Linked DNA regions of Homo sapiens. The protein of the gene in region 4 interacts with the protein of the main gene of each other region in a pairwise test. Each region holds a gene or a part of one and is shown on either strand. Other genes may lie near its edges.

Region 1 (3,966 bases), on a different chromosome or scaffold from region 4:
TCAATGGAATGGTGTTCCTGGGTCAGACTTTGACATAGGCTGCTCTGGGGCCTATTTCCATCCCTGGGCTTCCAGCAGCCCGCACTTTCCCGGAGCACCTTGATGGGGGAAAAGCTTTCACGATGTCAGCTGGAGTGAGAATCAACACCAAGGGAAGAAACCCTCTGTCCCCAAGGCCCTCTTAGTTCCCCCACATGAGAGAAGACAGGGAGGAGACAGATGTCTGCATGGGCCAGCCTTCACCACTAAGGACGGTAAGGGTACACAGGGTACAACAGCGTCGGGGAGCAGGACCTCTCCCTCCCCACGGTGCTCACAGAATAATGAACAACCGGATCCGCACCATGGACTGAGAAGACGAACTGCCTTTGTTTCAGAGGAAGAGTTCTCCAGCTGCTCTGTGGATCACAGAGCCCACATGGGAGAGGCAGAGGCAGGGAGGCCAGGGAGGTGACCAGGGAGCTCAGTGCCCTAAGGAGAAGGACATGGAGCGAATACTCAGAGGCCCGGAGTGAAACACAGTGCACTTTATTGGCGACAGACCGGAGGGGCGGAGGGGGCTGTGTGCTATATACATCAGAGCTGTAGTGAGCATCCCACCCAGGGAGGGGACTCCGGGGCAGCAGAAGGTGGCGGCCTAGGCCACACCTGGACAATCACAGGCACAGGCTGGAGCCGGAGAGAAGAGCCTGAAATTCTCGTGACTGGGCTTGGCCGGGGATCTGGAAGGAGGAGCAAGAGGCCACAAGCCTTCCAGCGCAGAGCCGCGTTCTTGGGGAGCATGGGGTGGCGCTGGGGGTGTTGCCAATATGGGGGCGTGGGGAGCGGAGGGGAGGCGCTGGAGTGGCTGCGATGCTGATGCGTGCTCTTTATCTGGAGTAGCGCTGGGAGGACTGGGAGGACTGGGAGAACTTGATGCTGCCGCCCCGGTTGCTGGCCGAGCTGAAGCCCCCGCCACTGACTCCATAGCGGGCGCCAGAGATGGAGCCAAAGCCGCTGCCACCGCTGAAACCGCTGCTGCCGCCGCCAAATCCACCGCCGATTCCACCGCCGCCTCCCCGGCCAAAGCCACTGCCTGAGCCGCCGCCCGCACTGAAGCCACCTCCTAAACCACCGCCCATGCCTCCGCCGTAACCTCCTCCATAGCCACCTGCGGAGGCGGAAGTCGTGCTGCTGCTGACCACGGCTGTGGGGGAGAGGACAGGACAGCGATCAGCGACGGCGCCCAGGCCAGCTGCTATGTTATTGTCAATGATCCACCGGGCCCACGACTATCCAGAGCTGATCAAGGCAGCTTTGCACAGGATGTTCACCACGAGCCGTTCCAAGGCCACTAGCTACTCACTCCCCTGCCGTTAAGCCATTATGAATTAGCCAGTGGTTCCTCCCACAGTACAGTCTTGATGACCCCCTTGGAGGGGATCTAGCGTCTGAATTTATCCTCCTATCAAGAGGCCCCCTGTTGGATATTCCACATTGGCCGTCGAAGCCTATTAAAAGTGCCCTGAACCCAGAACAATTACAAAAGCCAATCACTTCCCTCTCCTCTCCCAGAAAACCCCTCCAACTTCCGTAAAAATATGTTTAAATTAGTTGCTACTACCCTGGATTAGTGCAGATATTTCAGAATTAACTCTCATTTTCTTAGCTACTTTCGGTACTTACAGATGCTGACAGCACTCGGACACTCTCCAGACATCCTGTTTGAGAAAGCAAGAGAAAGTGGGCCCCGTCACAAAGCACATCACCAACAAGTCCACGGACCAAGGGCATGAATAGCAACCAGAGCTGAACAGAGAAGCCTGGCAAATCAGGTAAGCTTTCTCCACCCCTCTTTGGGCTGTAGCAAGGAGAGCCTGTGGGCACTGGTTGCATACGTGCCCTGGGAGGGAGTGGGCTGGTAGAGGCAAATGCTTCACCACAAGGCCTCTCTTTATACAGCAGGGCTCCATCCCCAGTTACTTGGTCACTTATCTGGCCCTTGGCCTATGACTTGAGCCAGGGGGTGTGGGAAGACGGGACTGGAGGCTCACCTGTACTCCTCGCCCTCCAGCAGCTTGCGGTAGGTGGCGATCTCCACGTCCAGGGCCAGCTTGACATTCATCAGCTCCTGGTAGTCACGTAGCAGCCGCGCCAGGTCATCCTTCGCCTGCTGTAGAGCAGCCTGCAGCTCTTGGAGCTTGGCATTGGCATCCTTGAGGGCCATCTCTCCATGCTGCTCGGCCTCGGCAATGGCCGTCTGCAGGTTGGCATTCTGGGGCAAGGGAGGTAGGAGGAATGAGCTCAGTAAGAGGGCCCCAGGCCCTTCCTGACATGCAATGGATTATCCCATCTTAAAGTCAGGGAACATTCCTCCTCCCCTAGTGCCTCCATCTTGTCTCCATTTGTGGAGATACTGCCCTGTGGGTCAGCCAGCCTGAGATGACCTCCAGACGTCTATTCCAGGGGAGGAGTCCTGAGATCCTAGCCCCTGCCCCTCAGCAATCATCCCAGGTGCCAGCATCCATGACCATCCCACCTGCTTCTTGACACCCTCGATCTCTGCCCGCAGCCTCTGGATCATTCTGTTGAGCTCTATGATCTCGCTCTTGGTATTTCTTAGGTCATCCCCATGCCTGCCAGCCGTGGTCTGCAGCTCCCCCAACTGCAGAACAGAAGGGAAGATGGGGTATTCCTGCAGCTTTGCTTGACTTGTTTCTACACCTCCAACATCACCCACCAAACCTTCAGAAGCTCAGTAAGGCATTTGCTAAAATGATACTGCATTGTGTTTCAGCAGGGAAACCCCCAAGGCAGCAGGAAAGAGAACATCTGGGTTGTTGTGGTAGAAGATTTTCCTACCCTGTAGTTCCTGAGCAAGTTGGAGTCAGTCCCACATAGCAGGCAACCATCTCCCCCAGGGGCAAGACTTTCTGCAACTGAACCACCATTAGAAGGATGACTTCAGAGGGTAAAACCAAAAGGCATTCACCCAGTGACCACTGGGAACTCACTACCCAGCTGTCCAATAGGCCATGGCCTCTCTGAAACCTCCAGTGGATCCCGTAAGAGGTGACTAGCACCCACCTTGGTCTGGTACAGGGCCTCAGCTTCGGCCTTGCTTCTCTGAGCGATATCCTCATACTGTGCACGAACTTCAGCAATGATGCTGTCCAGGTCCAGGGAGCGATTATTGTCCATGGACAGCACCACAGATGTGTCACTGATGTGGCTCTGCATCTGAGATAGCTCCTGTCAACACAGAGGGAGCTTGTTCACTTTTGGGGTCCCTGTAACAAGCACACAGGGCCCTGAAAGACTCTTGATCAACAGTCTCATTCACTGATTCCTTGCTCCACATGTGTATCAGCCACACCCTGTCCGCAGCCACTCAGAGAACCCCATGTCTGCAGCTTATCCTGTGGAATCCCTTCCAAGGGTCCTCATCTCCAGGCTCATTCCAGATGTCTTCTGGGGCCTATATACCAAAATGCACCAGCCTCAAATCTGGAAACACCTCACTCTCCCTCTGTCCCTTCTTAGTAGGTAACATCCTTACAGCGTCGTAGAGGGTCCTTAAGAAGTCGATCTCATCTATCAAGGCATCCACTTTGGCCTGAAGCTCCACCTTGTTCATATAGGCACTGTCCACATCCTGAGAAAAGAGGAAGATAAAGGCCTTATTCTCCCAATGAACAAACAGCAAACCACAACTGCAGCAAGAAAGAGCAGAGGGGACTGGTGCAGTGATGGTCCTTGTCTAAGACCAGTCTCCACTTGAACGGGCAATTTGTATCTCATTAGGATGGTCTAAGTTTAATCCTACTAAAAAACTAAAGACTGATGAACTAACTCTTTTAGGGATCTTCCAGACTAAGGTGCACCTGACTTCTGTTTATTGCTCCAAAGGCCTGAACTTGGCAGCTCTGTGGCAGTGGAGTGAGGAGATTCCCCCAACCCAGCCAGAAACCTGCAGCTGCAAGCCTC
Region 2 (7,033 bases), on a different chromosome or scaffold from region 4:
AGCCACCCACCCTACACCATGATGTGATGAGTTCCGTGACTGCCTAAAGGATGATCTTGAGTTTGTAACTCTGGGCCCTTTGCTTCAGACACATTATGGTTCTAACTTCTATGTATCTAGTGTATTAAGACAATTCTTCTTTATTATCAGAGAGTAGTTCATACTGGAGAAAATAATTTATTATTGCTTTGCTATATATGCATTGCAGAAATATACTTTAAGAAGGCTAGATATGAAAATGTTCCCTGTATTTTTGTCTGTGCAGTAGTATAATCTGTGATTTTAAATTTCTTATTTGCTTTTTTCTTTTACAATGAACACGATTTGTGTGTGTGTGTGTGTGTGTGTGTTTACAGTGAACAAGTACTCAGCTGTCAGCATATAAACATTTACAAATCTTAAATTAATGCTGCCCAGCTTGGAAGGTTTCTGATTTCCTTGCCTTCGGTGAATTTCTCCCTGTGACCTCACAGTCCCTTTAGCACTTGGGTGTTTCCCAGGGCAGTGGAAGTCTGTGGCCTGTGGCAGGATGGTACTCCTGGAACCCACAGGGACCATTATTTAGGACAGGCAGAGCCCCAGGTAGGGGTAAGATGGGTAGGTCTGGCTTTCTTCCAGAGTCAGCTGTGGCATAAATGTCCAGAATGGTCCCCCCTTTTTTTGAGTCTGAAATAGGAACCCCCAGAGTCTAACAGAAGCACATAAAAGTTGTCACGCAGCCAAACCAAAATGGTTCCTGACTTGCCTGACACTTGTATCCATTCACCACTGACAAGGCCAACCTCTGATGGCATAGAAACTTGAGTGGTGACTATTTTTCTCATTTTCTTTTCTTTTCTTTCTAAACAGATGGAGTCTCACTCTGTCGCCCAGGCTGGAGTGCAGTGATGTGATCTCGGCTCACTGCAGCCTCCGCCTCCTGAGTTCCAGTGACTCTCCTGCCTCAGCCTCCTGGGTAGCTGGGATTACAGGCACATGCTACCACGCCTGGCTAATGTTTATATATTTTTTAATAGAGACGGGGTTTCACCATGTTGGTCAGGCTGGTCTCGAACTCCTGACCTCAGGCGATCCGCCCGCCTGGGCCTCCCAAAGTGCTGACGTTACAGGTGTGAGCCACTGCGCCCGGCCTCATTTTCTTTTTATGATAAATAATATCAAGACATGAGGACATCTTAAGAATCGCCAGTCATAGATGGTGCATCTGAGCAGTTTACGTTTTCTTCTTACCTTAACAGGGCAATGAGAGGGGAAGTACGGTGGAAATAAGAAGTGCTAGATGGGAACCTGGACACTGGCTGACTCTCTTGACCACTGTACTGTCATCCATTGTCTGTCAACAAACCTTTGACTGGATGTTGCCGGCGCAGAACATTTCTTTTTCATAGATATAATATTGTGCTTTTATTTTTACTTGAAAATATGAATAAATGTGAAGTTGTTCTTCATTTCCAATTCCCATCCCCCCATCCCCTGCCACATAGGAGGACTTCTGCTGCCCACCTTTGGCCCCAGCCTTTTTATCTGGGGACAGTGAGGACAGCACCCCCATGCCTCGTCCACCTGGCCTCACCTGAGCCTGCAGGACTGTCTCTTGCTCCTTCAGCACTTTCGCCTGAAGTTTCCACTCTGCTGCCTGGTTCAGCAACTATGAGAAGAGAGAGTGTGTGGAAAGATGGTCAGATTTGCCTTTTAGATTACTATTTGGCTGTAATTTGTCTACAAAACTTAGCAACCTGCTCATTAACCTCCTTAAGTAATTTTTTGGAACTTTGAAAAGAATCTAAGAAAGCTTAAAAAACCAGGCCCAGCATGGTGGCTCATGCCTATAATCCCAGCACTTTGGGTGGCTGAGCTGGGAGGATTGCTGGAAGCCAGGAGTTTGAGAACAGCCTGGGCTATATAGGGAGACCTTGTCACTGAAAAAAAAAAAAAACCAAAATTAGTCAGGGGTGGTGGTGCATGCCCGCAGTCCCAGCAACTCGAGAGGCTGAGGCAGGAGGATCACTTGAGCCCAGGAATCCCAGGTTGCAATGAGCTATGATGGCACTGCTGCACTCTAGCCTGGGCAATAGAGTGAGACTCCATTTCTAAAAAAATAAAGAAAAAGAAAGCTAAGAAAATAATTGGTCTAAAAAAGTTGGATTCTCAACTATAAACTAGTGGTTTTAATAAAAAAAATAGTCTCTAGCTCAAGTATGAATCACAAAAAATTCAACTTCCCACCACATTCTGGAACCTTCTCTAGTAATCTTGGCCAACAATCATTCAGCCTCTGCTGGAACCTCTCCAGAACATCCCCACTTGGTGCACTTTTGTTAGCAACTGTTTCTTTTCTTTTTTCTTTTTTTTCTTTGAGACGGAGTTTCTCTTTTGTCGCCCAGGCTGGAATGCAGTGGTGTGACCTCAGCTCCCTGCAACCTCCGCCTCCTGGGTTCAAGCAATTTTCCTGCCTCAGCCTTCTCAGTAACTGGAATTACAGACACCTGCCACCATGCCCAGCTAATTTTTGTATTTTTACTAGAGACGGGGTTTTGCCATGTTGGCCAGGCTGGCCTCCAACTCCTGACCTCGTGATCTGCCCGCCTCGGCCTCCCAAAGTGCTGGGATCATAGGCGTGAGCCGCCGTGCCCGGCCAACAACTGTTTCTTTAGAGTACATCCAGAATCATTCTCCTAGACCACTGTTCTCCACCATAGCACACTTGATACAATAAGAACTATGTATGTCCTTGGTCTTTGTCCCTGATTCCTGACACAGAGCTTCTAACATGCATCAGAATCTCCTACGGAACATATTAAAAATGCAGATGCCTCTCAGATAATATGATTTAGGAAGTACAGAGTGTGACTGAATTCTATGCTTCAAGAAAATACCCAAAATGGTCTGGATATCGGTGGCCTGTGGATTACATTTTGAGAAGTATGGGTTAGAAGTTTGACCTATTGGTCTAAATCCTGGCCCCTGAGAGCTGATGGGTTAAATTGGAAAGGGGATTTGGGCATACAATGACACATTCATATATAAGCTTGTAATTTTAACTTAAGATGAATGCCTATTTATCAATTTTGAGGTAGGGCTGTGGTCTTTGTTTTGGGTATGGATCTTCTGATTAGAGTTCAGAGGGTTTTTTGTTTGGTTTTTATTATTATTTTTAAAAATCACATCCACAGTGTGCCATGTAAGATTTCTAGGTTGTTAGGCTTGTGTGTGTGTGTGTTTAGCGATAGTGCTAGAACCTAAAAATACTTATGAAGCAGCTTGTCTGGATAATTCTCTAGAGTTTTCCACTTCCCCCCAGTCTTTTATAGCTACTCATATCTAGTTTGACAGTTGTTTTTTGCCATTTGCTTGCATTTGGTCTTTCAAAGCACTAAGCATAATTTGCACAAACAGTTTTTTGTTTTCATACTTATATTTCATCAGTTTATGTAACATCCTGTTGATTTACACAAAAGCAAGTGCAATTGGAAAGAAAAGGTTTGTGCAAAGAGCTGATTCTTGGTAAGCTCCACCTTACTAAACTGGGGCAAATTTTGTAGCCCTTCCAGAGAGTGGCTGGGTAGACCTGCAAGTCAGCATGCTGTGGGCATCGGTCAGTGCGTTTTACAGAGAAAACAGTGAACGCAGAGATCAATCTGGCTAGTCAGTCTGGAGGCTATCAATTAAGAAGTTTCTCTTGTATTTGAAGATAAGCTGATTAAAATTTCCCACTTTTAGTTTATCCCTATTGTAAAAAAAAGTCCACGAGGTCTATGTATTATATAATCAGAACCAAAAAAACTAACAATAAAATCATTACTTTTAAAAACTGGAAAGCTTCTTTTTCCTCATCTAAGTTTGTCTTTTTCCCATGACCCAGCCTCTCCATTTGTAAAATGGGTTGCATTTGTTCCTCTATGCCTCCCAGGGTGCAATGAAGATTGATTCTCATAGAAGTGCAACCAAATGGTCCTATGAGAGGACTGGGGCAGCTGTGGAGTAGAAGCCCTACAGTGTCCCCTCTGGCCATCTGAGGGGAGTGGTGGCACTGTGCCTGCTTCTTGTGAGCTGGCTATGCAGCTTTGTTGTGATTGGTGACCCCCAACCTCGAGGGAGGCTGGTGGCTGCCTATTCTGCCTGGGTGACTTGATATCTCATCGCTTCCAAAAGGAGGTGCCCCAGCTGCAAGCCAGGTAGGTGGCTAGCTTCGAAGAAGTGAGATGAGCTCCCTCTCTTTGACTCAAATCTGTTTTGCTGAACCAAAACAGGTGCTAGTTTCTTGCTAAGGCTGGGTCGTCTCAAATCTGCTCTCCAATGTCTCTCATGTGCATCTTTGTCTTGTTCTTTCTCTTTCATGTCTCGTGTTATACAGCAAAGTACCAATATACTATGGGAAGCATATTTTACCCAAGAAGGTAATTACACCAATGGTGGAATTTCTATTCTCTTGGATTGTGAATAATAATTGAATGTTTTATTTCTTGCTTTCAGAGCTAGGTTGTAGATGGATTTCATAAATTAATCTTTTTCTTAAGAGAACATGGACTTCTGATTTGAAATTATCCAATGTCCACCAGATTATGTTGCTCAAAATTTGTCTTTTTGTTGCCATGTTTGAAAATTTATTTTAAAATTACTATTCTAATCAACTGAATTGATTCTGGTCTGATTTTAGGTAAATGAAAATCTCAAGATCAAAATGTGACATGGCCAAATTTGAATAAGTGGTCCATGGACCATGTTTTACCTCTCTCTCACCCCAGCAACAGATACATGCGTCAACTCATACCTCTGAAACACACGTCTGAGTGTGATGCACCGTCACAGAGAGTGTGGGCTTTGGGAACAGACGCACATAAGATCAAAACACATCTTGCTCAGTCAGCAGTGTGCAACCTTAACAAGTTGCGTATCTTCTTGGAGCCTCAATTCTCTCATCTGTAGAATGACCCTACAGCTTTTTGGGGAGTGCTTGGGGTTAATGAGATATCAATAAACACCACCACTCAGTTTCCTCAGCCCAAAACTTAGGAGTCATCCTTGACTTTCTCCTTTTCTCTTTGTCACCAGCTTCAGGTCTGTAGCACTGTCTGTTGATTTCACATTGAAAACAACTTTCATCCATCTCCACCCCTCTTCTCTGCTGCCATATCCCTAAACCAAGTCATCATCATATTTCATCTGATTGCTATAGTAGCCTCCTGTCTTCTTGCTCTCTTGTCCCTCTGCAGTCTATTTTCCATCCAGGAGCCAAATTAATCTTAGAAAATGCAGAGCAGATCATGCCATCACTTCCTTTGCAGAAGCACCCAGTACTTTCCCATTGTATTTAGAATGAAATCCAAATAACTTTTTAAGCCCTACAAAGCTACACAGTTTGGCACCTGCTTACCTCTCCAACTTCATTTTGAACCTCTCCCCCATGCTCTTGCTTCCCTGACCTTTTCCTGTTTCTGGAGCACACCAAATTGGTTCCAGCATTAGGGCGTTTGTTGCTGCTGCAGATGCTGGAGACGATGCTCCAAGTAGCAGCTCCTCATCTGGCAGGGCTTAGCTCAAGCATTCGCCCCTCCAGGAGGCCTTCCTGGTCACTCAATCTAAAGTACGTCCCCTTCTTTGGCCCCTTCTCAGTTTCTCCTTACTTCCTTAGTAGTGGTGATTATTGTCTGAAATGACCCTTCCCTGTTTGCTTGTCTATTGCTTGTCTCTTTCCAGTTAGACTCTAATCTCCATAGTGGGAGATGCCCCTTCTCTGTCTTGTTCACGGCTATGTCCCCGCACCTAACACGGTGCTTAGTAGATAACAGGCACTTGAAAAATATGTGTGGAATAGATGAATGACTATTTTATGTAGAAAGTAGTGTAGACATAGTGCCTCAGACTGGGCTGGCTAATTTAGTTCTCCATAGAAGCTGGGGCTCTTTCTCCATCAGTCTAGTGCTCTTTGACCATTATAAAAACAACTTGCGTCCAGGCGCGATGGTTCACACCTGTAATCCCAGCACTTTGGGAGGCCGAGGAAGGCGGATCACCTGAGGTCAGGAGTTCAAGACCAGCCTGGCCAACATGGTGAAACCCTGTCTCTACTAAAAATACAAAACAAGTAGCCTGTTGTGGTAGTGGGCACCTGTAATCCCAGCTACTTGGGGAGGCAGGAGAATCGCTGGAATCCTGGAGGCTGAGGTTGCAGTGAGCTGAGATCACGCCACTGCATTTCAGCCTGAATGACAGAACGAGACTCTGTCTCAAATAAATAAATAAATAAATAAATACAAAACAACTTGCTCAGAGTGTCTCTGACACTGAGGTAGACCAGATATGCACAACGACTAAAATGATAAATACATATTCCTTTTCTCGTTTGTGTCGCTCCTCCGCTTCCTTCATCATTTCTTGGGCCTGCTCAAGCTTTGCATCCACCAGCTTCTGCTGCAGTTCTCTGTGTTTAAATATTTTGTCCAGATGCTAAGAAAAATAAAGTGTACATAGAAAGCTTGGTTTATTATTGGTGCTTAAAAATGCAAAGTAAAATAATTCACATTAATACACATTCCCCAGGTTTTAAGATTTAAAAGAAGAGAGGGATAAATGCATTGGCATCACTTACAGCTTTATAATAAAGCTGTAAATTGGTGAACCCCTCCCCCTGACTTTGCACCACACACACAAAGCTAGCTATAAAAGGTAGAGGCACCAGAGTTCAGCAGTGTCAATGCCAAAAGATCCATACAATATTTTTCTACGTTTGGTAACTATTAGATATGATGCTATTTATTATGCTAGACAGCACAGACAATGATGTATCAGTATACAATATACAGGGGCTACAGTTGTATCATTTGGTATTTTGGCTCTTTCTGTGAATATAAAACCACTTTTAATTGCAACACTTGTGCAATTTATCATGATGAATTCTCTGCATTCTTGCCTCTGGCGTTGTGAGAAAGCCTTGGGGTGCCAGCATGTGGTCCGAGGTCTGGGAGTGAGGCCTGAGCCCCCCTGAATTCTACTCTGTTGCTCTGGTGGAGATGACAAGGCCAAGGGTCATAGA
Region 3 (7,833 bases), about 110 Mb from region 4:
AGTGCAGTGGTGCAATCTCGGCTCACTGCAACCTCCCCCTCCCGGGTTCAAGCGATTCTCCTGTCTCAGCCTCCTGGGTAGCTAGGACTATAGGTGCCCACCACCACGCTCGGCTAATTTTTGTATTTTTAGTAGAGATGGGGTTTCAGCATATTGGCCTGGCTGGTCTTGAATTTCTGACATTGTGATCCGCTCACCTCAGTCTCCCAGAGTGTTGGGACTACAGGGATGAGCCACCGCACCCAGCCTTTTTTTTTTTTTTTTTGAGACAGTCTCGCTCCATTGCCCAGGCTGGAGTGCACTGGTACAATCATGGCTCACTGCAGCTTCGACCTCCTGGGCTCAAGCAATACCCCCTCCTCAGCCTCCTGAGTAGCTGGGACCACAGGCACATGCCACCATATCTGGCTTTTTTTTTTTTTTTTTTTTTTTTTTTTGTAGAGATGGGGGTCTCACTGTGTTGCTCAGGCTGGTCTCGAACCCTTGGGCTTAAGCAGTCTCTGCCTTGGCCTCCCAAAGTGCTAGGATTATAGGCATGAGCCAAATAGCCAGCTGCTCCTTCACTTTTTTTTTTTTTTTTTTTAGACGGAATCTCTCTTGTCACTCAGGCTGGAGTGCAGTGGCGCGATCTTGACTCACTGCGACCTCTGCCTCCCGGGTTCAAGTGATTCTTCTGCCTCAGCCTCCCAAGTAGCTGGAACTACAGGCACCTGCCACCACACCTGGCTAATTTTTTTGTATTTTTAGTAGAGACAGGGTTTCACTATGTTGGCCAGGCTGGTCTCAAACTCCTGACCACATGATCTGCCTGCCTCGGCCTCCCAAAGTGCTGGGATTACAGGCGTGAGCCACCACACCCGGACTGCACCTTCACTTTTTAAATCTTCCCCCATATTTGTCTCCCAGGCCGCTTATTGCTTCTTTTACACAGGCAGTATATTTTGGCGTTAGGAGAACAGGCTTTAACACTGGACAGATCTGGGTTTCAGTGCTGGCTCTGTCACTGACTGTGTGGCCTTGTGCAAATTATTTTAATTTTCTGGGTTACAGTTCTTTATGCTGTATGTAAAAAGGGAGATAATGCCTAATTCATTGGGTTGCTGTGGGGATTAAATAAAGCACTTAGCAGCAAGTAGCACAAAATGTCCAATAAATGGTAACCCATAATGATGTTTTCTTGCTCCTATGATAGTTTTTTTCCTTCATTCCTTTCCATTACATGGGCTCCCCTTACCTCCAACCAGACTCCCTCACCAACTCCTTCTATTTTGCTATTCTTCTTTCCTCTGTTCATCTGAACCCACAGAATGCCCCATCCCCTCTGCCTTGATCCCTGACCTTGGCCTCTTCCCCCAGGGCTTGTCAGTGCCAGGCTGGCTCCAGTATTGGCAGGTTGGCCCCCTACAGAGCCCATCTCTTCTGATCCTCTCTATCTATTCTGTCTGCTCTCATAACATCACCCCATCATACCCATTCAGCCCCTCTTCCCTCTGTGGCGAATGCTATAACCAGCTCCTCTGGCTCAGAGGGGCTCAGTCCTGTTTGAAATGGCTACATAGTAGATATTTCCAGGAGAGCTAAACGGCTTGTATCAAAGGCCATCTGATGTTTCTGCCTAGGTATGCCATACAAACTCTCCTTCCAAGACAGCTGCTTCTCCCCTGCATCCATATTCCCAGTCTGCCTCTCTGTTCCTCTAGTGCCCCAAACATTAAAGTCCTTTCATTCCTGCTAGTCTCTTTCCCAGCCTCTCTTCCTCCAGCTTCTGATTCTTGAATGTGGGTAAGCTTCTCAGAGAAGGGAACTAGAACTTGAGGGGTTAAGGGTAAGAAGGGAGAGCAAGAAAGTACAAATTACATACACATCCCCTTTAGGAGCCAAAAAGGAACAAAGACATAAGACAACATCACAGATGCCTACCTTGGGGCCTGTATATGCCGATTTGTTAGTCTTCCCCTGAAAGGCAAGAGCCACACAACAGGAATTGACTGGGGCTTGGGACAAGCTATTGATCTAGATCAAGGACACTGTGGAGTTGGTATATGCTGGGGTTTGGGGTGGGTGTCTGGAATGGGAACAAGGACACATGGAACAGGCCTAGGGGCTGAAGCAGAGTGTCCTCCTCCCACCCCCACACTTCCACTCAAGCCCCCCAGCCCCCAATGCAGCTATAACTTGGGCTCTTTTCTGCCACAGTGGAGAGAAGCATCTGCCTGCCACATGACATTCAACAGACCTGATTCTCTCCAAAAGAGAAATTTCCCATGTGGGAATCCGGCTGGATCCCTGTGAGGGAAGACCCTTGGAGAACGCAGCCTGGAGTTCTGGTAAAAAGCCCTAGAAGAGGAGAGGACTCCTGTGGACTGCAGGCTGCTTCCTGGCAGAAGTTTCCTCTCTTACCCTCAGTCTAAAGCCTTAGTTTCAATTCTGCCAGGCAAGGTGGGGAACTATAAGTCTTCTCTTCTGGAGCCCACGATGGAGCCTGCCAGGGAGACAAGTTATTCTTCTGTTCTGGACATCCAAGGGTGACTTTAAGGAGGATGCCTGGAGGACATGGGGAGAAGGTGAGAAGGGTTAAGCTGGCAGAAAGGGGAAGCCAAGCATCTGCAGCACTTAAGAGCAGGACGGTGCCAGGATGGTGCCTCCTGAACGGACCTCAGTAGTCTTGTGGGGGTGATCTGGGAAGGTTAGGAGTTCTGTTGGAAAGGTAAAGCAGGGTGTACAAGTCCTCTGCCCCCACCCCGGAAAGCCTCAGGGCAGCTGGAATGGCATTGAAGAGAGCAGGTGGCAATTTTGATGAGGAGCTGCTGACACGGCTGATCCTCTGGGCGCTGGGGCCGTGACATCAGGGTGAGAAGCTCTGTGTGGGAGCTCTAGGGAACGATAGTTGCCCGGATGTGGAGCCCTGCCAGGTATTCTTCCTGGTTTAGGCCAACGTGATCCAGCAAAGGCCAGGAGCTTGTAGAGGAGGAGCTGAGGCAGGGATGACACGTAGGACAATAAGCAAGAGCTGGCTGTCTTGGGAGGTGAAGAGCAGGAGCCAGTACCCTTCCTCAAGGAGATGGCTCTCCACCTAGACATGATTGGTGCCTGGTGTCTGCTCTATTCTTTCTTTGCAACTGGAAGGAAGGCAGATGACCCCCAAAGCTCTCCTGCCTGCTTCTGTGTGATATGTTTGATATTGGGTTGTTTAATTAGGAACCAACTAAATGTCAAACATATTCTTACAGCAGCAGGTGATTCAGCACCACCCTCTTTCATACTTCAATCTCTGGGGCTCCTGTCTCTTTTACTGAACCTCTTCTCTCCAGGACCCCCCCAAAAGTCCAGTAGCTGCAACCTATGTGCATTTCAATCTTAACCTAAGAGGGCTGGTGTGGGAATGGGAGAGAGTTGGAATTTGAGGATAGAATCTTTCTATTTCTTGTCCCCTTATACTAGAAGGGACATTTCTTTGCCTTTTCTTGTCCTCGTATTTTTCTCCCCCTTATTCACTTGCCCACCCCCCCCCCATTTTCCACTCCTTCCTCTCCCTGTTCCCTAACCCCTTTCCCTGGCTAATCTCCAGAGAAAGGAGACTTGGTTTCTCCTCTCTCTGTCGAGAGTCAGCTGATGGTCTATCTGCCTATCTACCTCTAGTGACTGGAAGCTCTCAATAGTGGACTCCAGCTCTGCTCTACCCACTGGCCTGGTGGGTGTCTCCGTTCCCCCATTGCTGGGGCTTAGCATTAACTCTCAGTATCCTGACATAAATGACTAACTAGAGCCATTTATATTTGTCCAATATATCTGGTCACCTTGAACAGTGCCCACCTCTCCCTTGGCATATTTTCAGGTGTATGGTGCCAGTGGACTGGTATCCTTGCCACCTGTTAGTAACAAGGCTCCCAATGGAAGAATAAACATGGTCTGGAACTAAACTGGAAAGAATAGAGCTGATAATGATGATTACGATGATGTGGTGAGTGGCAGCGTTGGGGAGAATTAAGAAGGGAGAAGATAAAGGGAAGAAGAGGAGAGAGCCACACAGACCAAAGTCTGTGTGGGTACAACAGTTCTATTTTAAGATTACTGTGGGAAAACAAAGGGTATGATCCTGTCTGGATTGTTCTGACCCTCCCCTGTTTCTCTCCCCACCCCACTTGAAGCTCTGGGATAGCCTTCAAGGATAGGGTTGGAGATTCCAACCCTACCTCTTACTCTACTCTTGTGGCTCTTGGTGGGGAGGAAAAACGTCTCCCTGCCAATCGGAGACTCCCAGAATAGCACAGCAATTTGATCTGGGGATCTGGGAGAATTGTTAAGGATCATGAGTGACCTCCCCTCTTCCCTGTGCCCAAGCTCCTTGAATACCAGGAATCAAAAGCTAAAACTCAACTAACGGAGTTTGACCAGCATTCAACACAGTCTGGGGGAGAGTGAAACGGGAAGCTGAAAGGCAACCAGGACCCCCTGGATGCAAACTGCCAACCTAGAATTGCCAAAGTACACTTCTCTATTTCAATGTTCTTCCCTCCCCTCTTCCTCTTCTTTTAAAACATCCATAGAGCTGCCCAGAATGAGTGGAAAGTTTCAGGGTCAGGGAGAACCTCTTCCCTCCCCCACTTTCCATTGTCTAAAATCAGCCTCAGCTGTTGCTAGATATTTTTTTTGCTGGTGATGTCAGTTCATCAAAGCGTCTCACCCTGTGTTCCCCCAGGAGAACAATGATGGGGTGGAGGGAGCTGGAAAGACCATATTAGGAACAAAAGGTGGAGCTATGAGCACAGATAAAGACTCAAGTCTGGGGACCTCCTGGTCACTCAGGCAGCAGCCCCTTCTTTCTTGCCCCAGTCTCCAGTTCTCCAGTGTTCACAGGTGAGCCTACCAACAGCCACTGCTCATGATGGAGGCCATCAAGAAAAAGATGCAGATGCTGAAGTTAGACAAGGAGAATGCTCTGGATCGGGCAGAGCAAGCTGAAGCTGAGCAGAAGCAGGCAGAAGAAAGAAGTAAACAGGTAGGCACTGGCATTGATCTCTCTCATCTGCTAGTGAACAAGACTGTGAAATGGAAGGGAGTTTTCATGGGAAAGACAGTGACTACTGGTGTCACCTCCTTTTTGGGGGTGGGATGGACTCCCCAGCCTCACTGGAGGAGCAGAGGATATCTAACATATCTGTCTCAGACTGCCTTTGTGACCTTGGGAAAGTCAGTGAGCCACAGTATGTCTGCTGAATTTAAGTAGAAATGGACCATGTTTTGGAAGAACCCTTGACTTCTAGAGGAAAAGGTAAGAGTTCTAGAGGGAAAGAGCATCTCTTTTCACTCAAATAGCATCACGGGCATCTACACTTTAGATATTTATCATCCAGGGGTCTTGGATGAAAACCCAGGATGGCTTGGTCATCTTAGGATCAGAGATTACAGGGTCACAGGCCAAGCTACGGCATAACTCCTGAGGCAGTGGGCTGGAAGTGGCTGGGGAGAAAGTGTGTCTCACTAGGGATGGTAACATGGAGGTTACACTCAGGGCTCCAAGAGCCCAGGGTCCAACCCTGCATTGTTGTGTTTGTGTGTTTTTGTGTGTGACTCTCTGGGCTCCTATAGCTGGAGGATGAGCTGGCAGCCATGCAGAAGAAGCTGAAAGGGACAGAGGATGAGCTGGACAAGTATTCTGAAGCTTTGAAGGATGCCCAGGAGAAGCTGGAACTGGCAGAGAAGAAGGCTGCTGATGTGAGTATTAGAGAGATGGAGGATGGGTTTAATCTACACATATAGATCTTTATGTTAATGTATGACGAAATTCCAAACACACTTGTGGGTTCATGGAACACAGACATATATACTCACATACATTTTTGCATATAACCACATGCTGGTATATTCTCATAATGGCATGTATTTTCTTTCTTAAAGACATCTCCAACATGTTAAAAGTTTTTTTTTAATACATGTAAAGGTCTCATTTATCTCCTATCACCAACCCAGGAATTTAATTATCTTTCCCAGGACCTGGACAAAGAGAGGGGACTCTAAGTTCAGAATGCTGTCACTTATCCTACCTCCTCCCCCATGCCACATTCTTAGCTTTTATGTCCAAGTCTTGGCATGTGGATATGTGTATTAATAGGGAACCTCTCATCTCTCAACTGTCCAACAAAACCAGCTCGGATTTCACAATGGGAAATGGAGGTCACACTGACCCTGGCCATATATGGGTTTATTTATCTTGGCCAATGCAGGCATTTGCCTTTATGCCATGGAGATGCCATATGAAGCATTGCTCCTAGGGCAGCAGAGAGATCCCTACAGTGACAGAGTATAATAGAAACTAAGAAAGAATCTTAGGGGGTAAAGGTATCACCACCAGACTTCACTCTATGACCGTGAGTAATTACTCAGCTTGTCTAGGGCTGAATTTTCCCATTCTCAAATAAAATAAATTCTCTTTTCCATCTCATATTATCCCATCATCATCACCTACTTTCCTTCATCTTTAACCTTGAAGTTTGCTGCAAAGATAAATGAGAGAGTAGATTGAAAAGTTTTTTAGAAGAAAAGTACCATAGGAATCTTACCAACAACAACAGAAATGTCCCAGTATTGGTGGAAACAAGTTTCTCAGTGAACTGAGTTAATAGGAAAAAAGGAGCATGTAATATTTAAAATCATATTTGGGCTGGGTGCGGTGGCTCACGCCTGTAATCCCAGCACTTTGGAAGGCCGAGGCGGGTGGATCACCTGAGGTCAAGAGTTTGAGACCAGCCTGGCCAACATGGTGAAACCCTGTCTCTAGTAAAAATACAAAAATTAGCCAGGTGTGGTGGCGGGTGCCTGTAATCCCAGCTACTCAGGAGGCTGAGGCAGGAGAATCGCTTGAACCCAGGAGGCGGAGGCTGCATGGAGCCGAGATCGTACCACTGCACTCTAGCCTGGGCAACAGAGAGAGACTCTGTCTCAAAAAATAAGTCAATAAAATAAAATCACATTTGGTTTTGGAAAATAGCTAGAAGGACAGACAGAGTGAACCATTCATAAATGCTTTCGGATCCTCATATTTGGTCTCTCTGCCATCCGGTTTCTTTCCTTTTCTTTTCCTTTTTTTTTTTTTTTTTTTTTTGAGACAGGGTTTCACTCTTGTTGCCCAGGCTGTAATAAAATGGTACTATCTCGGCTCACTGCCATCTCCACCTCCCAGGTTGAAGCGATTCTCCTATCTCAGCCTCCTGAGTAACTGGGATTACAGGCACGTGCCACCATGCCTGGCTGGCTAATTTTCATATTTTTACTAGAGACGGGGTTTCATCATATTGGTCAGGCTTGTCTTGAACTCCTGACCTCAGGTGATCCGCCTGCCTCGGCCTCCCAAAGTGCTGGGATTACAGGCGTGAGCCACCCCGCCCAGCCAGGTTTCTTTTTATTGTTGTTGTTGAGATGGAGTCTCGCTCTGTTGCCCAGGCTGGAGTGCAGTGGCACAATCTAGGCTCACTGCAAGCTGTGCCTCCTGGATTCAAGCCATTCTCCTGCCTCAGCCTTCCGAGTAGCTGGGATTGCAGGTGTGTGCCACCATACCCAACTAATTTTTGTATTTTTTTTTTAGTAAAGATGGGGTTTCGCCATGTTGGCCATGCTGGTCTCGAACTCCTAACCTCAAGTGATCCGCCTGCCTCAGTGTCCCAAAGTACTGGGATTACAGGCGTGAGCCACTGCGCCCAGCCTAAGCCACTGCGCCTGGGCTTTTTTTTTTTTTTTTTTTTTTTTTTTTTTTTTTTTTTTTTTTTTTTTTTGAGACAGAGTCTTGTTCTATCACCAAGGCTGGAATGCAGTGGCAAGATCTCGACTCACTGCAAC
Region 4 (7,033 bases):
AACCTTTATAGTAACAATATTCTGATAGTCCCCGCTCTGGGAGCTCGGACTGGGATTTCCAGGCTTTTACCCTAGGGCCTGATTTATATTGAGCAATGAGGAAACCATACAGGACCCCAGCGCTGGGCAGAGAGTCTGGTATGTAGATGTTAAGGAGAGGAGTAGGGAGCCTGAATCTCCTTGGAAGGAGAATTGGGTTTGGAGTCGCCTCTGAGGCTGCATCTCTCCTGAGCTGTTTATCCTATACTCTATTTTCTTCAAGAGATGGTGTGAAAAGAGTGTTTCTTTTTCTGGCAAGAAAACCTTGCTTTCTTCTATTCTGGGAGTGATGCTGTCACAGTCAGGGAATCCCACTGCCACAGGATTATAGAATCTGCTCTCAGATTTATTTCCCAGCAACACACTACAACCCAGACCCCTGAATCCTGGGAACCATCAAAGGGGTCAAGGATAGTAAAGGCAAGAGAATCACAGAACTGAATGTGACCTCCTTAGCACTGGGCCAAGCACCAGAAATGGATTGGGCAGGATCTGCTCTCAGGGAGCTCACAGTCTGGTTAGGGAAGGAGGAGACAGAAGAACATTTCTAGTACAGGATGATAAGTGCTGGTAGAACCCAGGAAGGGCCTCCTGGAAGAGTCTTCACTGTAGAGTGATGTGGTTGGGTTTGTGCTCTAGAAAGTCGATTTCAAATTGGAAGGAGGCACAGGCTGTTTCCTCTGCTTGAAATGCTTCTCTCCACCTCTTTGTCTGGCTGAGTCCTTCTATTTTTTTTTTTTTGACACAGGGTTTCACTCCCATCACCCAGGCTGGAGTGCAATGGTACAATGTCGGTTCACTGCAACCTCTGCCTTCCAAGCTCAAGCGGTTCTCCTGCCTCAGCTTCCTGAGTAGCTGGGACTATGGGCATGTGCCACCACACCTAGCTAGCTTTTGTATTTTTAGTAGAGACGGGATTTTGCCATGTTGGCCAGGCTGGTTTCGAAGTCCTGACCTCAAGTGATCTTCTGCCTCAGCCTCCCAAAGTGCTGGGATTACAGGTGTGAGCCACTGCGCCCATCCTAGCTGAGTCCTTCTTAACCTTAAATTTTCAGCTCATGTCCCTTATCCTAGGAAGCATTTCCTGACCTGGTTAGGTTATGGCCCTCTAGGTATCTACAGTCCTCTGTATAGCAGTTGTTTCCACTAGCGTTTGCCACACTGAACTTTTCTTTCTTTCTTTCTTTCTTTTTTTTTTTTGAGATGGAGTCTCGCTCTGTCGCCCAGGCTGGAGTGCAGTGGTGCGATCTCGGCTCACTGCAAGCTCCGCCTCCTGGGTTCAGCCCATTCTCCTGCCTCAGCCTCCCGAGTAGCTGGGACTACAGGCACCTGCAAACACACCCAGCTAATTTTTTGTATTTTTAGTAGAGACGGGGTTTCACCATGTTAGCCAGGATGGTCTCGATCTCCTGACCTCGTGATCTGCCTGCCTCGGCCTCCCAAAGTGCTGGGATTACAGGCATGAGCCACTGCACCTGGCCTGAACTTTTCATTTTTAAATTATTTATTTATTATCATTATTTTTTTTGACACGGAGTTTCGTTCTTGGCGTCCAGGCTGGAGTGCAATGGCGTGATCTCGGCTCACTGCAACCTCTGCCTCCCGGGTTCAAGCGATTCTCCTGCCTCAGCTTCCTGAGTAGCTGGGATTACAGGCACCCGCCTAGTTAATTTTTGTATTTTTAGTAGAGATGGGGTTTCACCACGTTGGCCAGGCTGGTCTTGAACTCCTGGCCTCAAGTGATCTGCCTGCTTTGGCCTCCCAAAGTGCTGGGATTACAGGTGTGAGCCACCCCACCAGCCTTATTTATTTTTTTAATAGAGACAGGGTCTTGCTATGTTGCCCAGGCCAGTCTCAAACTCCTGGCCTCAAGCAGTCCGTTTGTGTCAGCCTCCCGAAGTTCTGGGATTGCAGGCTGAGCCACAATGCCAAGCCAACCACACTGAATTTTAAGTGCTTGCTTCATTGTCTTATCTTACCCACTAGATTATGAACCTTCTGAAGGTAAGAAATGATGCCTTTTCTTTCTTCATCGAACATAGTGCCACACCAATAAGAAACAATAAATATTGGTTCCATAACTGAATGGATTAATTCCATCTCGAGGAAGGGCAAGGAAGACTTCCTCGAGGAGGTGACATTTGAGCTGGGGCTTGAAGAATGAATAAAGTCAGTGGGAATTCCAGTTCAAGATACCAGATTGAGGGCCGGCACGGTGGCTCATGCCTGTAATCCCAGCATTTTGGGAGGCCGAGGCGGGCGGATCACCTGAGGTCAGGAGTTCGAGACCAGCCTGACCAACATGGTGAAACCCCATCTCTACTAAAAATACAAAAATTAGCTGGACGTGGTGGTGCACCTGTAATCCCAGCTACTAGGGAAGCTGAGGCAGGAAAATCGCTTGAACCCTGGAGGCGGAGGTTGCAATGAGCCAAGATCGTGCCACTGCACTCCAGCCTGGACGACTGTGCAAAACTCTGTCTCAAAAAGAGAAAAATAAATAAATAAAATAAATAAAAGGCATGAAGCCGTTATGACAATGAGAATAAGAGACAAGGTAATAGGAACAAAATTTTGGAAACTGAAATTCAGAAGGAAGAGTGGTAACTAACTCAGACCTAAAAAATGCTCAGTCCCGAGCCAGCAGTGGGGAAAGCTGAAAAGCAACACTTTTTTATTTTGTGGGGGATAGAGTTTTGCTCTTGTTGCCCAGGCTGGAGTGCAATGGCGCAATCTTGGCTCACCGCAACCTCCGCCTCCTGGATTCAAGCAATTCTCCTGCCTCAGCTTCCCAAGTAGCTGGGATTACAGGCATGTGACACCATGCCCAGCTAATTTTGTATTTTTCGTAGAGATGGGGTTGCTCCATGTTGGTCAGGCTGGTCTCGAACTCCCGAACTCAGGTGATCCATCCGCCTTGGCCTCCCAAAGTGCTGGGATTACAGAGCCACCGCCCCCTGCCAAAGCAACACATTTTATACTGCAAAAACCCTTAAAGGTCTTAGGGGTTGGAAGCACCAGGTATTTCTGGAACTGGGGGCACAAGTGGGGCTGAAAACAAAAGGGCTGGTTGAATGTTTAAAAGTCATATTCTAAGATCCCCTCCCTAACTGTGCAACCAGGTGCCACCTAATTCTTTATCTAGCAGAAGACTGGAGATGTAAGTTCTGTTGTTGTTTTCTTTTTTTTTTTCTTTTTTTTTTTTTGAGATGGAGTCTCGCTCTGTTGCCCAGGCTAGAGTGCAGTGGCCCAATCTCAGCTCACTGCAGCCTCAGCCTCCCGAGTAGCTGGGATTACATGCACCCGCCACCACACAGCTAATTTTTGTATTTTTAGTAGAGACGGGGTTTTGCCATGTTGGCCAGGCTGGTCTTGAACTCCTGACCTCGGGTAATCCACTTGCCTCAGCCTCCCAAAGTGCTGGGATTACAAGCATGAGCCACCATGCACGGCTGTAGATGTAAATTTTGGAAAGAGGAAGGAAGGGAGGGATGGAGGGAGGCAGAAAGGAAGGAAAGGAGGGAGGGGAAAACAGCAGGACAAGTGTTTTTAGTATGAGGAGCTTTGTTTAATGTATTTAGTTTGGTCATGGACTAGGACAGTTGTCTTCACTGTTCATATATTTGTCTCCAGGATGAAATAATTGAAGATAATCTCCTTTATCAAGTTAATAGTCTGTACAGTCTGATATTGCAGTTATTTATGTTCATCTCCCCTTATTGAGACTGCAAGCTTCTATTAAGCAGGAACAATTTCTCCATTATCTTTGTAATTATTAGCAAATCCATGTACCCAATAGTCATTTGTTCAATTGAATTAGAGTTGTGATATTCTTCCAAAAACACAAATAATTTCAGGTATAAAATTTTTTTCTATGCTTTTGCCATAGTGTTTAGAAAACCCTAAACTGTGTGTGTGTGTTTTTTTAATTTTTTCACTTAATGCAACACAACAATAATCATTAATACAGAAGACCCCAAAATATATGAGGATTTCTTCCCACCAGCAAGCAAGCAATCAGTTCTGCAGCAGATACCAGCTGGGTGTCTACTAATTTAATTTCAACTCTGTCTACCTGGAGACAGTGTCACATCCCACAGGTTGAGGGCTCAGTCCCCAAGACTGTCCCCCTCTTCAGACACTAGTCGTAAATCTGGGCCTCCTGACCTTCTGACCAACCAGCTTCAAATTGGGGTTCCTATGACCCCCTCCTTGGGTTTGATTGGTTTGCTGGTGTGGCTCACAGAACTCAGGGAAACACATTTACTGGTTTATTATAAGGATATTACAAAGGATATAGATGAAGAGATGCATGGGGCAAGGCATACGGGAAGGGGTGCGGAACTTCTGTGCTCTCCCTGGGTGCACCACCCTCCATCTGTTCAGCTACTTGGACGCTCTCTGAATCCTGTTGTGGGGACCTTTTTTTATTTTTTGAGACAAGGTCTGGTTCTGTTGCCCAGGTTGGAGTACAGTGGCTCAATCACAGCTCACTGCAGCCTGTACTTCTCTGGCTCAATCAATCCTCCCAGTTCAGCCTCCTAAGTAGCTGGCACTACAGGTGTGCAATACCACACTCACCTAATTTTTTTTTTTTTTTTTTGGTAGAGACAGGGTTTCCCTGTGTTGCCCAGGCTGGTCTTGAACTCCTGGGATCAAGCGATCCTCCCACCTCAGTCCCCTAGAGTGTTGGGATTACAGGCTTAAGCCACTGTGCCTGGTCCTTTGGGCCTTTTAAAGAGACTTTATTGGTTGTCCACGATTGAAACATGGACAACCATATCAAAATGTTATTGGACAAAAAGGGTCTGATCAAAACCCAGCAAAGCCTGTCTGTTTAGATTCTTATTGGCCTCTCTCTGCGGCATTCCTTCCTCCAGGGTATGAGTCAGGACCTTCTCTGGAATGAGGGTCTTATGACCCACAATCAGATTAGAGTTCTACTCTGGGAAGGTGAGAGGAGAGCAGGAGAAGGTCAGAAAGAGACTGTTTCCTGAAGCCTATTTCTGAGTGCCCCAGCATTATAACAAACACTGTAACAATGGCTATGGGGCTTATGAGCCAAAAACTGGATGAAAACCTGCACACACACACACACACACACACACACACACACACACACACAGTAATATCACAACTAGTAAATAAGTCGACCATAGTAATATGTAGAGCCAAATAGCCTACCATTTATTGATTTACAGTATTATACTTGTCAGATGGTATGCTATGCATGTTAATATGTTCCTTCGATGTCTCATGACAAACCTTTAGATAGTACCTCATATTATAATAAAGAAATGAAGGTTTAAAGAAATCAATTTTAATTTCATATGGCTCATTAATGGCAAAACTGGAACTCAAATCTAGGTCCATTTAATTCCAGTGTCTAATTTTCTCAATGTACAAATATATATATATATTTTTTTGAGACGGAGTCTTGCTCTGTTGCCCAAGCTGGAGTGCAGTGGTGTGATCTCGGCTCACTACAACCTCTGCCTCGGTTCAAGTGATTCTCCTGCCTCAGCCTCCTGAGTAGCTGGGCTTACAGGCGTGCGCCACAACGCCTGGCCAATTTTTGTATTTTTATTAGAGACGGGGTTTCACCATGTTGGCCAGGCTGGTCTCAAATTCCTGATCTCAGGTGATCTTCCCACCTCGACCTCCCAAAGTGCCGGGATTACAGGAGTGAGCTACCACACCTGGCCTCAATGTACAAATATTAATGCATGGTCTTACTCTGGTTTATCATAGATGTGAATAAAGCAGTTATTTCCTGAATAATTCAATAAACATTTTTCAAATACAAAAAACATTTACTGTGTTTGTGTGACCTGCGGGATCTGACCTGTATATGTAAATACACATACACACATAATGACGTTTTGGTCAATGTCAGACCATGTATAACATAAACAACCATGTAAATTTTTTTTTTTTTTTTTGAGACGGAGTCTTGCTATGTCATCCAGGCTGGAGTGCAGTGGCGCGATCTCAGCTCACTGCAAGCTCCGCCTCCCGGGTTCATGCCATTCTCCTGCCTCAGCCTCCCCAGCAGCTGGGACTACAGGCGTACACTGCCACGCCCAGCGAATTTTTTTGTATTTTTAACAGAGACGGGGTTTCACCGTGTTAGCCAGGATGGTCTTGATCTCCTGACCTCGTGATCCGCCCGCCTTGGCCTCCCAAAGTGCTGGGATTACAGGCGTGAGCCACTGCACCCGGCCAAATTTTTTTTTTTGAATCAGAGTCTCGCTCTGTCACCCAAGCTATAGTACAGTGGCACCATCTCAGCTCACTGTAACCTCTGCCTCCCGGGTTCAAGTGATTCTCCTGCCTGAGCCTCCCGAGTAGCTGGGATTACAGGCAAGAGCCACCATGCTTGGCTAATTTTTTATTTTATTTTATTTTATTTTATTTTTTTGAGACAGAGTCTCGCTCTGTCGCCCAGGCTGGAGTGCAGTGGCATGATCCCAGCTCACTGCAAGCTCCACCTCCCGAGTTCACACCATTCTCTTGCCTCAGCCTCCTGAGTAGCTGGGACTACAGGTGTCCACCACCACACCTGGCAAAAATTTTTTTTGTAATTTTTAGTAGAGACGGGGTTTCACCGTGTTAGCCAGGATGGTCTCGATCTCCTGACCTCTAGTGATCTGTCCTCCTCAGCTTCCCAAAGTGCTGGGATTACCATATAAACATTTTGATCAATGATAGACTACATATGTCAAATAAACATTTATCATGTGTGTATATATGCACATATATATAAACATTTATGTGTATATAAGTGTGTACACATACACAAATATTTATATGATGTTTCAGTCATCATACGACCAAAACATACGATGTTTCGATGAACAGCATATACCATAGTGATTTCATAAGATTATAACACAGCATATACACAAATATGATATATGGCACTTGATATTGGCATAGCAGATCAAGTAGGGATTGATATTCAGTAATTGTGCTGGGACATTTTGTTTTCCAT

Evidence for each region.
Region 1: the proteins of LURAP1 (region 4) and KRT3 interact in binary tests that used the Homo sapiens proteins (3 or more experiments, as listed by UniProt).
Region 2: the proteins of LURAP1 (region 4) and TXLNB interact in binary tests that used the Homo sapiens proteins (3 or more experiments, as listed by UniProt).
Region 3: the proteins of LURAP1 (region 4) and TPM3 interact in binary tests that used the Homo sapiens proteins (3 or more experiments, as listed by UniProt).

What each region holds. Positions count from the first base shown.
Region 1 is NC_000012.12:52,789,173-52,793,138, forward strand, and holds the end of KRT3 (keratin, type II cytoskeletal 3), read right to left. Parts: intron 3,635-3,966; coding exon 3,539-3,634; intron 3,232-3,538; coding exon 3,067-3,231; intron 2,645-3,066; coding exon 2,519-2,644; intron 2,255-2,518; coding exon 2,034-2,254; intron 1,701-2,033; coding exon 1,666-1,700; intron 1,187-1,665; coding exon 870-1,186; 3' UTR 513-869; downstream 1-512.
Region 2 is NC_000006.12:139,253,991-139,261,023, forward strand, and holds part of TXLNB (beta-taxilin), read right to left. Parts: intron 6,448-7,033; coding exon 6,328-6,447; intron 1,649-6,327; coding exon 1,574-1,648; intron 1-1,573. UniProt on the Homo sapiens protein: Promotes motor nerve regeneration. May be involved in intracellular vesicle traffic.
Region 3 is NC_000001.11:154,189,068-154,196,900, reverse strand, and holds the start of TPM3 (tropomyosin alpha-3 chain), read left to right. Parts: upstream 1-4,800; 5' UTR 4,801-4,882; coding exon 4,883-4,999; intron 5,000-5,167; exon of another isoform or gene 5,168-5,272; intron 5,273-5,589; coding exon 5,590-5,715; intron 5,716-7,833. UniProt on the Homo sapiens protein: Binds to actin filaments in muscle and non-muscle cells. Plays a central role, in association with the troponin complex, in the calcium dependent regulation of vertebrate striated muscle contraction.
Region 4 is NC_000001.11:46,206,318-46,213,350, forward strand, and holds part of LURAP1 (leucine rich adaptor protein 1), read left to right. Parts: intron 1-7,033. UniProt on the Homo sapiens protein: Acts as an activator of the canonical NF-kappa-B pathway and drive the production of pro-inflammatory cytokines. Promotes the antigen (Ag)-presenting and priming function of dendritic cells via the canonical NF-kappa-B pathway.